Homo sapiens: one gene and its partner. The protein of the gene in region 2 interacts with the protein of the main gene of each other region in a pairwise test. Each region holds a gene or a part of one and is shown on either strand. Other genes may lie near its edges.

Region 1 (7,101 bases), on a different chromosome or scaffold from region 2:
GAAGGCCCTTGAGGAACAAAAGGTGGGGCGGGGCATGGAGGGGCACGGCTGAGCTGCTCACAGCCAGGGATCCCCGGTGGTGCTGCTGCCTCCTCGGGCGGGCGTGCTGATGAGCACTCGAGGCTGGGCAGGGGATGGTGGGAGGCATCACGGCCTAGGAGTGTCATTCCCTGAGGGAGCCCCACAAGCCAGGGAGGTGGGTAAGGAAGGCCGGAGCCCGGTCACGGTGATGGGGGTGGTGAGGAGGGGCGGGGGCTAGGACCGCAGAGGCCCCGTGGAGCAGCTTTTGTCGTCGTCGTTGGACCCGTAGGTGTCAGGGGCTGGTACTTCTTGCTCCAGGCTCAGCTGTCTTGGGAGGTCCGGCCTGTGGCTCCCCCTGGGAAAGAGCAGGAGCAGAAGGCCTGGGGCTTGGCATGTTTTGAGCCAGGAAAAACACTGGTGGCTGCTGCCTTTAAAACATAAATAGGTTTGCTTCTTTAATTCCATATGTGCATTTACACTCTTCTTTATTAGTGGATAAATATTAGAAAATCATCTCTCAGACAGAGTGGCTGAGGGCGGGCCCCTCCAGGGGCTCCGGCTTGGTGTGCAGGGTGAGGCTGTCCCTCCAGGGCTCGTACACCAGCGTGGAGGTCTCGGCCCTCTTGATGGTGAACTTATAGGATCGGTTGGGCAGCAGGTTTCGGACGTCGAAGGTGCAGGCAGCCACGGGGATGACGCCACACTGGGCGCACTCCTGCTGTGTCCGCGGGTCCAGCAGCCTGAAGCGCAACTCATACTGCTCCGATGTGGCTGGCTGGATGGTGACGAACCAGCGCAGCCGGGCCCAGTCCTGGTGAGCCGCCGACGCCTTTCGGTCAAACACGACAGGCATCTTGGTGCTCAGCATGAGCCAGATGTGCGGGATCTTGGTGGCACTGACATCAGACACCAGGCGGTGCTTGACGTGTAGCCGCCCCGGCACCATCATGGTCAGGAAGCTGTCCATGACGGCCGACACGTCCGCCAGCCGCCGCTCCACCAGCGCCCAGTCGGCCAGGAAGGGCCGTGGGTCTGGCGACCGGAGCAGGGCATCCAGCTCAGCACGGCCATGGTCGAGCTGTTCCAACAGGTCCCCGAGCAGCAGGAGCTGGATCTTGGTCTGAGCTGTGCCCACCTTCTTCATGCGCTGGAACTTCCAGGGGTCGATGAGCTGGAACAAGGCGCTAGGCAGCACCAGCGGGTTCTGGTCGCCCAGGGCCAGGTGCTTGGGCAGGACCTCGATGTAGTAGGAGCACTTACGCAGCAGCTGCATGCGGGCGTGGTGGCGCTTGAGCAGGTGCGGACTCAGGTCCGAGGTCAGGAACTCACGCAGGGCATTGCGGCGCTCGGTGTAGGTCTTCCACGCCTCTGGTTCCAGCAGCTGCTGGTCATCTGCCTCCTCCTGGTCCAGGAAGGACTGGGGATTGCCCAGCTTCATCTTGTCCAGGCCCAGGCCTGCCACATGGGTGCTCATTATCCGGGAGCTGGGGGGAGGGCTGGGTGTCAGCTGCCAGGCAGGCTGGCCTCCCCTGGGCTGTGGCATGTTCGGGGGATGGATTCAGCCCACTGACCCCATGCTGGACCTCTGTCCTTCTTCGGGGGCACAACTCGATGGGAAGAGGCTGCCTGGAGGGCTGGATGGGCAGCCTACAGATCTGGACACAGTTTATACTGAGGGGCAAAAACCTCTACTGACAACCAGTGGCCTGTGGGACAGGACAGGGAAGAACTAGGACTGCGGACTTCTGGCCAGAACCGCCTGACCTGTGGCCTTGCAAGGGCCCCAGTTCCTAACCCTGCTGCTGAAAGGGGTTGCTGGCACCCCTCGGGGCCGTGGAGAGGGGACGGCGTGGTCCTAAGCAGCACAGGATCCCCCTCGGGGACATTCGCGGGCCATCCTCCCGCTCCGGTTCTCCCTGGGGACGCTCCACGCCTCACCGCAGTTGTAGGGCACAGAGACAGGCCTCACCAAAGACGAGGCCAGCTGGCTGGTCAGCATGGGAGGAGGGCGCCCAGGCCTGGGCCCGGAGGAGCAGCCCTCCTCCCACGCTGTGGGCCCTCGCTGTGGACCCGGGATCCTGTCCCTGGTGAGCTCATGGACTCCACAAGTGACACTCCATTTCCCAGATGGAGCCTGAGGCTAAGAAGCTTGGTTCTTGTTCTCATCCAGGGCTTGAGCCCAGTGCTGAGCCGAGTCTGACCCTCTGTCCGTGGGTGCACCGGCTGAGTGCAGCTGTGGCCCCAGGCTCTGCCGCAGCTCCCTGGAGAGCAAGCCGCACCCCTGGTTGCTGCCCCGGCTCCCAGCAACCCTGGAGATCTCAGGTTGTCACAGCCACTTGGGCCTTGGACGACCCACAAATGAGAGCTAAGCAGTTGCTGAGTTCCCCAGGGCCACACAGGTACGTGGTGAAGTCATATCTGCCCGGGAAGGGTTGCCCTTTTGGGCGTGAGGCAGATATGACTTCACGAGCGCACTCCTCGGGAATCCCTCGAGAACAGGCCCCTGGGGGCAGCAGGGAGTGTGTCTGGGGTGAGGTGCCAGCTGAGAGCAGGACCCCAGGACCCCAGGCCTAAGCCCTGCTCTTGCTGGAGGCTGGGGCGGATTTCACCGCTGGAGGGAAACCGTGCCTCTGTGACGTGTGAGGGATGTTTTCTAGTCTCCAGCAGCTGCCCAGGTGGAACACCCAGAGAGGCTGGTCGTGAACCCGGAAAGGTGGTTCTGAGCCCCTCGCTGCTTCCTACACGCCCCGGTCCCAGGCCCGCTTCCCTGAGACCACCAGGTGCCCGCACTCTACCCCCTCCACCACACTCCCCTTGGCTCCCCTGGCCCGGGCCCACCTCCCCGGCCGCTCTGCCTGCCCCTTACCTTCTCGAGACCCCCAGCCCTCCTCTCCCGGCCCCCGCCGCCGCCCCAGGACCGCGCCCACTTGCCCTGCCTCTGAAGCGGAGCCGCGCGCGGACTTCCCAGAGCCCAGCCTCCCTCCGCACTCCGCGGGTTGCCCTGGGGACCAGCGGCCTTTGTGACGCTGCGGCCCGGGGGCGGGGCGGGGGTGGGGACCCGGGACCCCGAGCCGAGTAATCTTCCATCCGCTTCGCTTCCTGGAGAGCCCCAGACTTCTGGGGGCCCGCGTCCCCGACTGAGGGGCCACGGCGGGTGGCTGGTCCAAGAGCCAGGCTCCAAGGGGGGTTCCCGTCCCGGAGCCCTTCCGCGGGCGCACCACTCCCCACGCACCCCCGGCTTCGGGCGGGGCGCAGGAGCCTCGGGTGACTGGGAGGGAGTTCCTGCTCAACCCCCCAGTCCGAGCGCACTCCTCGGGAATCCCTCGGAGGAATTTGGGAGAGAGGCAGTGGCCGGTGACCAGGCGGATGGACCACCCAGCGCCTGGACAGAGGAGAGGGGCGGCTTCCCCCGCCGCGGGCTCTGCCCAGCAAGGCCCCGCCCATTACAGATGCCACCCATTACAGGCTCCTCCCACCGCAGGCTCCCCCCACCGCAGGCTCCTCAACCACAGGCTCCTCCCACCATGGGCTCCCCCCTCCCCCGCAACGGCCCCTCCCATCATAGGCTCCTCCCACCGCGGGCTCCCCCCACCACGGCCCCTCCCACCACAGGCTCCTCCCAGAGCAGGCTCCTCCCACCGCGGGCTCCCCTACTACGGCCCCTCCCACCACAGGGTCTTCCCACCACAGGCTCCTCCCAGCGCAGGCTCCTCCCACCGCGGGCTCCCCCCACCACGGCCCCTCCCATCATAGGCTCCTCCCACTACAGGCTCCTCCCACTACAGGCTCCTCCCACCATGGGCTCCTTCCACCTGGGGCTGCCCAAGCTCAGGCACCGACCTGACTCTGGATAAATGGGGTCTCCATAGCTCCAGGGAGCCCCGCAGGGGAGCTCTGAGGCCATCTGGTCCCGTCTGTATCTGTTCAGTTGGGCTCAGGGCCTCTGGGATCCCCCCGTTCCCCCACAGCACACCCCAGCTAGCTGGGGGTCTCCTGGGGTCACAATCTTAGACACCCCAAGGTGCCCCTCCTTCACCTTCAGGAAGATGCTGGAGGAAGACACCCTTTCCATCCTCCTCATCTCCACCCCCACGGAGGTCAGTGCTGGGGCCTCTTCCAGGATGGGCGTCTTTGAGCCCCTACCAGGCTGTTCTGTAACTTGAGCCTCCCCCCTCCTCCCGGTGACCCCACCCTGGAAGAGCTTTCCCTTGGTGCATGGAGGCCCCAGGGGTTAGGCCTGGCAGGAAGTGGGTGGATGTGGGTGGTTTTTTTTTTGAGATAGCGTCTTGCTCTGTCACCCATGCGGCAGTCTTCACCCCCGGGGCTCAAGTGATCCTCCCACCTGGGTCTTTCTGATCCTTCCGGATTACAGGTGTGAGCCTTGCACCCAGTCCTGTTGGGTGCTGTTTCTGCCCTGCCCTCCCTGCCTGGGCTGGAACTCAATAAATGCCAGCTATTGTTATTGTTATTTAGGGCTCCAGGGGACAAAGCCGGGGTTGTTTGGAGAAGGGGGTGCTGTCTGACGCGGAGGGTTGGGAAGCAGTAGGAGTTAGACCCCTTACCCCCGGCCCTGCAGCCCACTGACGGAGAAGCGGGGTGGGGGCAGAGCAGCCTCCCCTTCTCTTTTGGGGCCAGGCAGGTCCTGGATGTCTCCCCTCTCCTGGGCTCCACCCTACCCCCTTTCTTTCAATTTCTGATTTCTAATCTAATTTTTTAAAGTTAAACTTTTGGCCAGGCTCGGTGGCGCAGGCCCATAACCTCAGCACTTTGAGAGGCCAAGGTGAGAGGATCCCTTGAGGCCAGAAGTTTGAGACCAGCCTCGGCAACACAGGGAGACCCCTGTCTCTACAAATAATTTGAAAAATTAGCTGGGTGTGGTGGTGTGCACCTGTGGTCTCAGCTACTTGGAAAGCTGAGGCCGGAGGATCACCTGAGCCTGGGAGGATGAGGCTGCAGTGAGCCAAGATGGTGCCACTGCACTCCAGCCTGGGTGACAGAGGGAGACCCTGTGTCTCTAAAAAGAATAATAATGGCTGGGCGCAGTGGCTCACGCCTATAATCCCAGCACTTCGGGAGGCTGAGGCAAGCAGATCACCTGAGGTCAGGAGTTCAAGACCAGCCTGGCCAACATAGTAAGACCCAGTCTCTACTAACAATACAAAAATTAGCTGGACGTGATCGAGACCATGGTGAAACCCCGTCTCTACTAAAAATACAAAACACTAGCTGGGAGTGGTGGCAGGCGCCTGTAGTCCCAGCTACTCGGGAGACTGAGGCAGGAGAATGGCGTGAACCTGGAAGGTGGAGCTTGCAGTGAGCCGAGATCACGCCACTGCACTCCAGCCTGGGCGACAGAGCGAGACTCTGTCTCAAAAAAAAAAAAAAAATTAGCTGGACGTGGTGGTGGGCGCCTGTAGTCCCAGCTACTCAGGAGGCTGAGGCAGGAGAATCGCTTGAACCCAGGAGGTGGAGGTTGCAGTGAGCCGAGATTGTGCCACTGCACTCCAGCCTGGGTGCAATAAGACAGAGGCCTGTCTCGAAAATAATAATAATAATAATAAAGTTAAACTTTTACTTTTAAGATAAGTATAGATTCATCTGCAGTTGTAAGAAGTAACACAGAGGTCCCGTTACCCTCTATCCAGCATCCCCAGTGGTAGCATCTTGCAGGACTGCAGTGCAGAATCACGCCAGGACCTTGACGTCGATACAGACGCAAGGCAGTGCCACCCCCACGGGACCCTGACATGTTCTTTACAGCCACGCTGCTCCCTCCCACCTCTCCCTAGCCCTGCAACCACTCATCTCTCCGGCTCTGTCTGGTCATTTCAAGAATGTCCTATCAGTGCAGGCTTTCAGTATGCAGCCTTGGGACTGGCTTCTTGCGCTCAGCATAGTCCCCTCTGTGCAGGGTCAACAGTCACTCCTGTTCACTGCTGGGCACCAGGGGCCAGTTTGTGCTCAGTCTTGCTCAACCCTGTTTGTGGCCACCAGGGCACGGGCAGTGAACACTTTGGATCTGTTGTCCCTGGTGGGGACAAGCTCTCTTCCCTGGGCCCTGAGGATGGTGAAGCCTGGGGGTAGTGGGGCCAGTCTTGGGGGAGAGAATGCACGCTGACCACTGAGACCCTCAGAGCTGTGCCCTCCAGACACATAAACCCGGATGGGGGGTGGCCTGATGTGGCAGAGCTCCTGCCACAAGCCTCCATCTGAACACCAGGAAGGGCCCTGCACCCCATCCCCCTGGTCTGTGTCCTCACTGCCATTGTAAGCTCAGTGCTCTTACAGATGGGGAAACTGAGGCACAGGGAGGTTCAGCACTGTATGCCCAAGGTCATGTGGACAGTGAGTCTGACAGCAGGATTCCAGCCCTGGTCATTTTTATTTTTTTGAGATGGAGTCTTGCTCAGCCGCCCAGGCTGGAGTACGGTGGCGCGACGATCTCAGCTCACTGCAACCACTGTCTCCCAGATTCAAGTGATTCTCCCGTCTCAGCCTCCCGAGTAGCTGGGATTACAGGTGCCCGCCATCATGCCTGACTAACTTTTGTATTTTAGTGGAGACGGGGTTTCACCATGTTGCCCAGGCTGGTCTTGAACTCCTGACCTCAGGTGATGCACCCGCCTTGGCCTCCCAAAGTGCTGGGATTACTGGTGTCAGCCACCGTGCCTAGCCTTTTCTTTTTTTAAAAAAATAGAGATGGGGGTCTCACTATGTTGCCCAGGCTGGTCTTGAACCCTTGGGCTTAAGCGATCCTCCTGCTTGGCCTCCCCAGATGCTGGTATTACAGGAGTGAGCCGCCTCACCCGGCCAAGCCCCAGACTCCTGACCCCGTCCAGACTGATCCTGTACCCAGGCCCCTTTCCTCACTCCCCTCTGTGCCACCCACCCGGTTAGGGCTGAGGGAGGAGGTGAGGTCATGTGGGGGGGGCACAGCAGGCAGGGAAGGGGCTGCTGACACCGACACCTGGCAGGGGCCCTATGCTGGGCTGTGTTGCGCCTGGTGGGTGAGGTGAGGAAGGGGTGGACGGGCGGGCACAACTTGGAGGGCAGCGGGACAGGGCAGCTGGGCATGCGGGG
Region 2 (7,213 bases):
CACGGGAGCCCTGCCGGGGAGACAGACAGGGTGCCGGGGCAGCTCCGCTTTCAACCAAAGGGCACTGGGGCCGGACGGCTGGACCTTCCTTGCGGGTCACTTTTGCAGAGTGGAGGAGGGAACCTAGCGCAGGAATACGCTCTTTCTTCCACGTTAATCCGACTGCAGCGATGCCGCACGTGTCAACATACAGGTTTGCGAGTGAGCACGGCATTTTTGCAGGGCTGTACCTGACAAGTGCCTTTAGTTTTTTTTTTTTTTTTTTTTTGAGACAGAGTTTCGCTCTGTCACCCAGGCTGCAGTGCAATGGCGTGATCTCAGCTCACTGCAACCTCCGCCTCCCGGGTTCAAGCGATCTTCCTGCCTCAGCTTCCTCAGTAGCTGGGATCACAGGCACCTGCCATCACGCCTGGCTAATTTTTGTATTTTTAGTAGAGACAGGGTTTCACCATGTTGGTCAGGCTGGTCTCGAACTCCTGACTTCAGGTGATCCACCCGCCTTGGCCTCCCAAAGTGCTGGGATGACAGGCGTGAGTCACCGCGCCCAGCCTGACAATGCCTCTGTCATCGCAGGGGCTTGTTGTTCCTGTCCTAAGAGTTTCCCAAGCACCTGCCACGTGGGAAAGCTGCGTAGATCTTTTCTGGGGATGAAGCCTACATAGAAGAATCCACAAGTGGCCAGGCAGACCCCCCACTGCCAACCATCACAGCAGGACTCTCTGAATGCCACCTGAGCTTCATTCACTGCATTAAAGAAGCCAAACAGGACCTCCATCTGACTAAAGCCAGCTTTCCTATGGCTAAGAGGCACTGCACACTCTTCTCAAACTTTATGGTTTAAAATGAAGCCATGTGGAACGTCACAGGTGCATCCGTGATCTGTAAGCACGTCTGAAGAAGCATGGATTTCTCAATCCCTGGAACTTCTCAAAATGCCCATTGTGTCCAGTCACACCTGTGGGCAGAAAGGCCCAACTGGGCAAATATCACACACCTGTGCAAACATCAGGCAGTCGGTGTGGAGGCTTAGATGACCCAGAAGCCAGTCCCCAGGGTTCCTGTTGAGGTTGAATGCTCACACATACAGGCCCTTCCAGCTGCCACTCAGGAGGCCACCTCTGTGACTGGGTTGCCCAAAATGACAGCTGGGCTTTGTTAAAAGGTGTAATTGTGTCTCCAAGTGTCCAGTACAGTGCTCAGGAGGGTAAATATCAAAATGCACCACCCAGGCACGTTCAGAGTGTTGGGATACAGTCAGTGCAAGGAGGCATATTTCAATGATGACTATAGTGGGTTGAAAAGCGTCCTCCCCTACCAAAGAAAATCTGTATCCACCTGGTACTTGTGTATGGGACCTTGTTTGGAAAAAGGGTCTTTGCAGATGTATTAATAATGAAGGTAAGGATCTTTAGATGAGATTATTCTCAATTGAGGTGGTCCTAAATGCAGTGACCAGTGTCCTTAATAGAAGACAGATGAGGAGACACGGACACACAGGAGAAGACCACATGGAGACAGAGGCCGAGACTGGAGTGATGCGGCCACAAACCCAGAACGCCTGGAGCCCCCAGGAGCTGGGAGAGGCAGGAAGGATCCTCCTCTAGAGCCTCCACAATGAACTGGATAAAATCATGGTGGATTGAACAGTGGCCCGCAGAAAGATCTGTCCACAGCCTAAAGCCCAGGATGTGGAATGAGATCTTACTTGGTTATTAGAAATTTTGTAGATCTCATGAGTTAAGGATCTGGAGATGAGATCATCCGGGATTTGAGTGAGCCCTAAATGCAGTGACAGATGTCCTTATAAAAGACAGAAGAGGAGACACAGACACAGAGAAGGCCACATGGAGACAGAGGCAGAGACTAGAGTGATGATGTGGCTGGCCTGAAGCCCAGGGACGCCAGGAGCCCCCAGGAGCTGGGAGAGGCAGGAAGCACCCTCCGCGTAAGCCTCCGGAGGGAGCGCAGCCCTGAGACACTTTGATTACAGACTTCTGGCCTCCAGAACTGGGAGAGAATAAGCTATGGTTTTAAGCCCTCCGGTTTCTGGTACTTTATTAAAGCAAGGTATTCTGAAGGTTAATTTTGCCCGAAATAATGAGTGGAGGTCTTAGAAAGGCCCCCCGTCTTCACGGGCAGTCGCGGCCTGCGTTGCTGGCTTTCCGTCAACGGTGCCCGCCCAGTGCTTTTTAGGGAGACGCCGCCACGTGCCAGGTGAGCTGGGCATTGCCAGAGCCCAGCAGTGCCACTTCCCAAGACTGGGGTGCAAGGAGGGGGGTCCTGTGGCCAATGCCAGCACCCTGGTTTGTTCTAAGGTGCTGAGAGAATGAATAACATGACCGGGACTTCCACAAAACGAGGAACCCCCAAACTGCATCTTCTGCAGCCGAGTTAGGGTGGGGCCCCTGGATTACACAGTCAACGGAGGGGGAAAAGAATCTCAAGAGGCCTCCTAAGTCCGACCTGAGTGACAGGACACAGCTGTATCAGATCCTCCATCATCATCATCATCATATTATTATTTGGCTGAAACAGGTTTTGGTAATTGGGAGGAAAAGGTTTACATTCCATTATTATTATTTGTGCTATTGGGCTGAAAGAGGTCCCAGTCCTCAAACAAAAGTTTAAATTCTATTTATTATTATTATTATCATTATTATTATTATTATGTGGCTGAAAGCGGTTCTGGAACCTGAAGGAAAGGTTTCAATTCCATTATTATTATTATTTTTATTATTATGAAGATTAGGCTGGAAGAGGTCCCAGTACCAGTAACAAAGGTTTATATTCTAATTATTATTGTTACGGTTGTTATTATTATTAGGCTGAAAAAGGTCTCAGTACCTGTAGCAAAGATTTTTATGCTGGCACCAGGCACAGCGGCTCACGCCTGTACTCTCAGCACTTTGGGAGGCCAAGGTGGGTGGATCATCTGAGGTCAGGAGTTTGAGACCACCCTGGACAACATGGTGAAACCCCTCCTCTACTAAAAATACAAAATTAGCCGGGCGTGGTAGTGGCACATGCCTGTAGTCCCAGCTACTCGGGAGGCTGAGGCACGAGAATCGTTTGAACCCGGGAAGCAGAGGTTGCAGTGAGCCGAGATGGCGCCATTGCACTGTAGCCTGGGCAACAAGCGCAAAACTCCGTCTCAAAGAAAGAAGAAAACAAAAAAAAAGATATATATGCTATTATTACTATTGTTTTTAGGCTGGAAGAGGTCCCGATACCTGGAAGAAAAGTTTGTACTCGGTTATTATTATCTGTCTGAAAGAGGTCCTGAAAGCTGGAGCAAACATCCATATTCTATTATTATTATTATTATTGTGATTGTTTGACTGAAAGAAGTCCCAGTGCCTGGGGCCAAGGTTTATATTCTATTATCATTGCTGTTATTATTATTTGGCTGAAACAGGTCCTGGTACCTGTAGCAAAGGCTTATATTATTACATTATTATTATTATTAGGCTGGAAGAGGTCTCGACACCTGGAACAAAAATTTTCATTCTATCATTATTATTATTATTAGGCTGAAAGAGGTTCTAGAACCTGGAGCAAAGGTTTTTATTCTATTATTATTACTTTTGTTATTAGGCTGAAAGAGGTCCCAGTAACAGAACAAAAGTTTATATTCTATTTTATTACTATTTGGCTGAGAAAGGTGCCAGGACCTGTAGTAAAGGTTTATATTCTATGATTATTATTAGGCTGAAAGAAGTCCGGGTACCTGGAACAAAAGTTTATATTTTATTATTATTATTTAGCTGAAAAAGGTTCTGGCACTTCAGTCAAAGGTTTATGTTCTATTATTATCATTATTATTATTATTTGGCTCACAGGTGTCCCAGTACCTGGACCAAAGGTCTGTTTTCTATTAATACTATTCTTATTATTACTATTTGGCTGAAAAAAGGTTCTGGTACCTAGAGCCAAGTTTTATATTCCACTATTATTATTTGGTTGAAAGAGGTCCCAGTACCTAGAAGAAAAGTTTATATTCTATTATCATTATAATTATTATTACTGTCATTATTGTTGGTCTGAAAGAGGTCCTGGTACTGTGAACAAAGGTTTATATTCTATTATTATTCTTATTTGGCTGAAAGAGCTCCCAGGACCTGGAGCAAAGGTTTATATTCTATCATTATTATCATTATTACTACTGTTATTATTATTACTGGGCTGAAAGAGGTCACAGTACCCTGAACAAAGGTTTATATTCTATTGTCATTATTATTATTATTGTTATTATTTGGCTGAAAGACGTTCCAGGAGATGAAGCAAAGGTTTATATTCTATCATTATTATCATTATTACTATTATTATTATTATTACTGGGCTGAAAGAAGTCACAGTACCCTGAACAAAGGTTTATATTCTATTATCATTAATATTATTATTATTATTTGGCTGAAAGACGTTCCAGGACGTGAAGCAAAGGTTTATATTTTATCATTATTATCATTATTCCTATTGTTGTTATTATTATTGGGCTGAAAGACGCCCCAGTACCATGAACAAAGGTTTATATTCTATTATTATTAATATTATTGTTATTATTTAGGTGAACAAAGGTTTCTATTCTATTATGATGATCATCATTTGGCTGAAACAGGTCTAGTACCTGGAGTGAAGTTTTGTACTAAGAGCCAAAATTCCCAAACCCCTAACCAAGTGACTCCTGGAAGGAGAAACAAGAAGCTCCCTCCCACGTCTCCTGCTGTCAGAATTCCATGGGATTCCCAGGTAAAGAACCGTCCACACAGTAGGTGGGTTCCACCTGAACCCACGTAACAGCCACAGCAGAGCTGACCTTCTGCAGTGAGTACCCTCCTTCCTCCTTCCTCCTCCCTTGCAGCGCTTCCGAGCACACAAGGCCACGAATAAAGGTTGCTGTAAACCAGCCTCTCACTGCCTCATTCTTCAAGACTGGTGCAGCATCCCCAGTGCGGGGGGAGGGGGGTTTGGGGGGGACACTCCCCAAAACGCTCTCAGGGGGCCGGCGATTTCACGTTTCCAATTGCACATCCATGAGAGGCCAGTGGATGTGCCTCACATGACTCTTACCAGAACGACACGTCGCAAGAGACCAGTGTGAAGAAGCAGAGGAAGGAGCCAGCCGCCATCCGTCCCTTTATGGATGAGACTGACAAAACCCTAAAACTCAGCCACTCTTCTCCCTAGGTTTTTGTTATTTTGGAAATGACAATCATTTTTCTTTTAAAAAACATACAGCACATGGCCAAAGGGTACCAAGTTTCTGTTCGACAGGAGGAATCCGTTTCAGTGACCTACTGCACAGCGTGGTGGCGATAGTTAATAGTGTATTACATATTTCAAAATAGCTAAAAGAGGTTTTTATTTTTGTTTTTGTTTTTTTGTTTTTTTGGTTTTTTTGAGACGGAGTCTCGCCCTGTTGCCCAGGCTTGAGTGCAGTGGCGCAATCTTGGCTGACTGCAACCTCCACCTCCCAGGTTCACACCATTCTCCTGCCTCAGCCTCCCAAGTAGCTGGGACTACAGGCGCACACTGCCACACCCAGCTAATTTTTTGTATTTTAGTAGAGATGGGGTTCCACTGTATTGCCCAGACTGGTCTCAAACTCCTGAGCTCAGGCAATCCACCCGCCTCAGCCTCCCAAAGTGCTGGGATTATAGGCATGAGCCACCGCACCCGGCCCGCCAATAGAGATTTTAAATGTCTTGCGTGCAGTGTATACTGCTTGGGTGATGGGTGCACCAGAATCTCACAAATCACCACTAAAAAACTTACTCATGGAATCAAACACCACCTGTTCCCCAATAACCTATGGAAATAAAAAACAAAAATAGCTAAAAGAGATTTTAAATGTTCCCACCGCAAAGGAAAAATAGCGGGTGATAGATATTAGTTTAATTATTCCACAATGCAAACATACAGCAAAGCATCACACTGTGCCCCATAAGTGTACACATTTATATATTTATATAAAAATATCAATTGTTTTTATTTACATCTAAATTATATAAATATAACTTATTTGTATTTTATATTTATAGAAAAGTATAAATTATTCTAAAAATATATATATTTAATAAAAATAAAATATAAAAACAATAAATATATTACATACATTTTTGTATGTAACATGTAATTGGCCTGTTACCATTACTTTTAAATAGATTGTTAAATATGTTTTAAATTTCTGTTTTAATGTCTAACAGGATGACTTATTGACTGTTATAATCCACAAAAACAAAAACTGTCTGGGGTCCTCATTTTTTTTGAAAGAGATTCTATGATCAAGGAATTGGAGGCCGGGGGCAGGGGCTCACCCCTGTAATCCCAGCAATTTGGGATGCCAAGGTGGACTATCACCTGAGGTCAGGAGTTTGAGACCAGCCTGACCAACATGGAGAAACCCCATCTCACTAAAAATACAAAATGAGCCAGGCATGGTGGCACATGCCTGTAATCCCAGCTACTCGGGAGGCTGAGGCAGGAGAATCGCTTGAACCCGGGAGGCAGAGGTTGTGGTGAGCTGAGATCACGCCATTGCACTCCAGCCTGGGAAACAAAAGCGAAACTTGGTCTCAAGAAAAAGAAGAAGAAGTTGGAAAACTGCTGTTTTTACTTCTACCTGATTTCTAATAGCCACTGTTCACTACTCATAAAACCAACAAGAATTAACTTTCCCTTTACAGGTTAAAAAAAAAATAGTTTGAAAAGTAGGACTTCTATAAATAGCTTTGTAAGTGGGCCAGTTGGCATATTTTTTGTAAATACTCACTCCTGTGGTACAGCATTTACGAATCCATTTTGCATCCCAGAAAGTGAAGGAATATTCTGTGGCCTATTATTTACAATAGAACTTTTAAGAAAAATTCTGTGGCAGTATTGGAACTGGACTTGACTACAGGTACCATCAATTTTCTCTCCTTTGCAAAACTCATTGATGTATCAGAGAAAATGTAATTTCTAAACAGATCACCCTGTTATTAATACCGGTGGGTAGAGACTTTCTTTACTCAATATGATCATTTTCAACAGATTTCAGGCCATATCAATGTTCAAGTTTTGATGCCATATTAGGATATTAAATGCACTGATTAAATCATCTATTTTAAAATCCAACCAACAGATACAACTTACTGAATGGGCCGCATGGATATAGTCTTAAGAACACAGAGACAGACCCTCTTATGGGAATTCTCAATTTGCTTCTAAACCCCCT

Evidence for each region. Proteins that work in one complex are often made in the same cells at the same time.
Region 1: the proteins of ZBED1 (region 2) and FNDC11 interact in binary tests that used the Homo sapiens proteins (3 or more experiments, as listed by UniProt).

Annotation. Positions count from the first base shown.
Region 1 is NC_000020.11:63,550,058-63,557,158, reverse strand, and holds FNDC11 (fibronectin type III domain-containing protein 11), read right to left. Parts: upstream 3,001-7,101; 5' UTR 2,953-3,000; exon of another isoform or gene 2,888-2,952; intron 2,817-2,887; exon of another isoform or gene 1,991-2,816; intron 1,985-1,990; exon of another isoform or gene 1,598-1,984; coding exon of another isoform or gene 1,593-1,597; exon of another isoform or gene 1,565-1,592; coding exon of another isoform or gene 1,496-1,564; coding exon 539-1,495; 3' UTR 464-538; downstream 1-463.
Region 2 is NC_000023.11:2,490,820-2,498,032, forward strand, and holds part of ZBED1 (E3 SUMO-protein ligase ZBED1), read right to left. Parts: intron 1-7,213.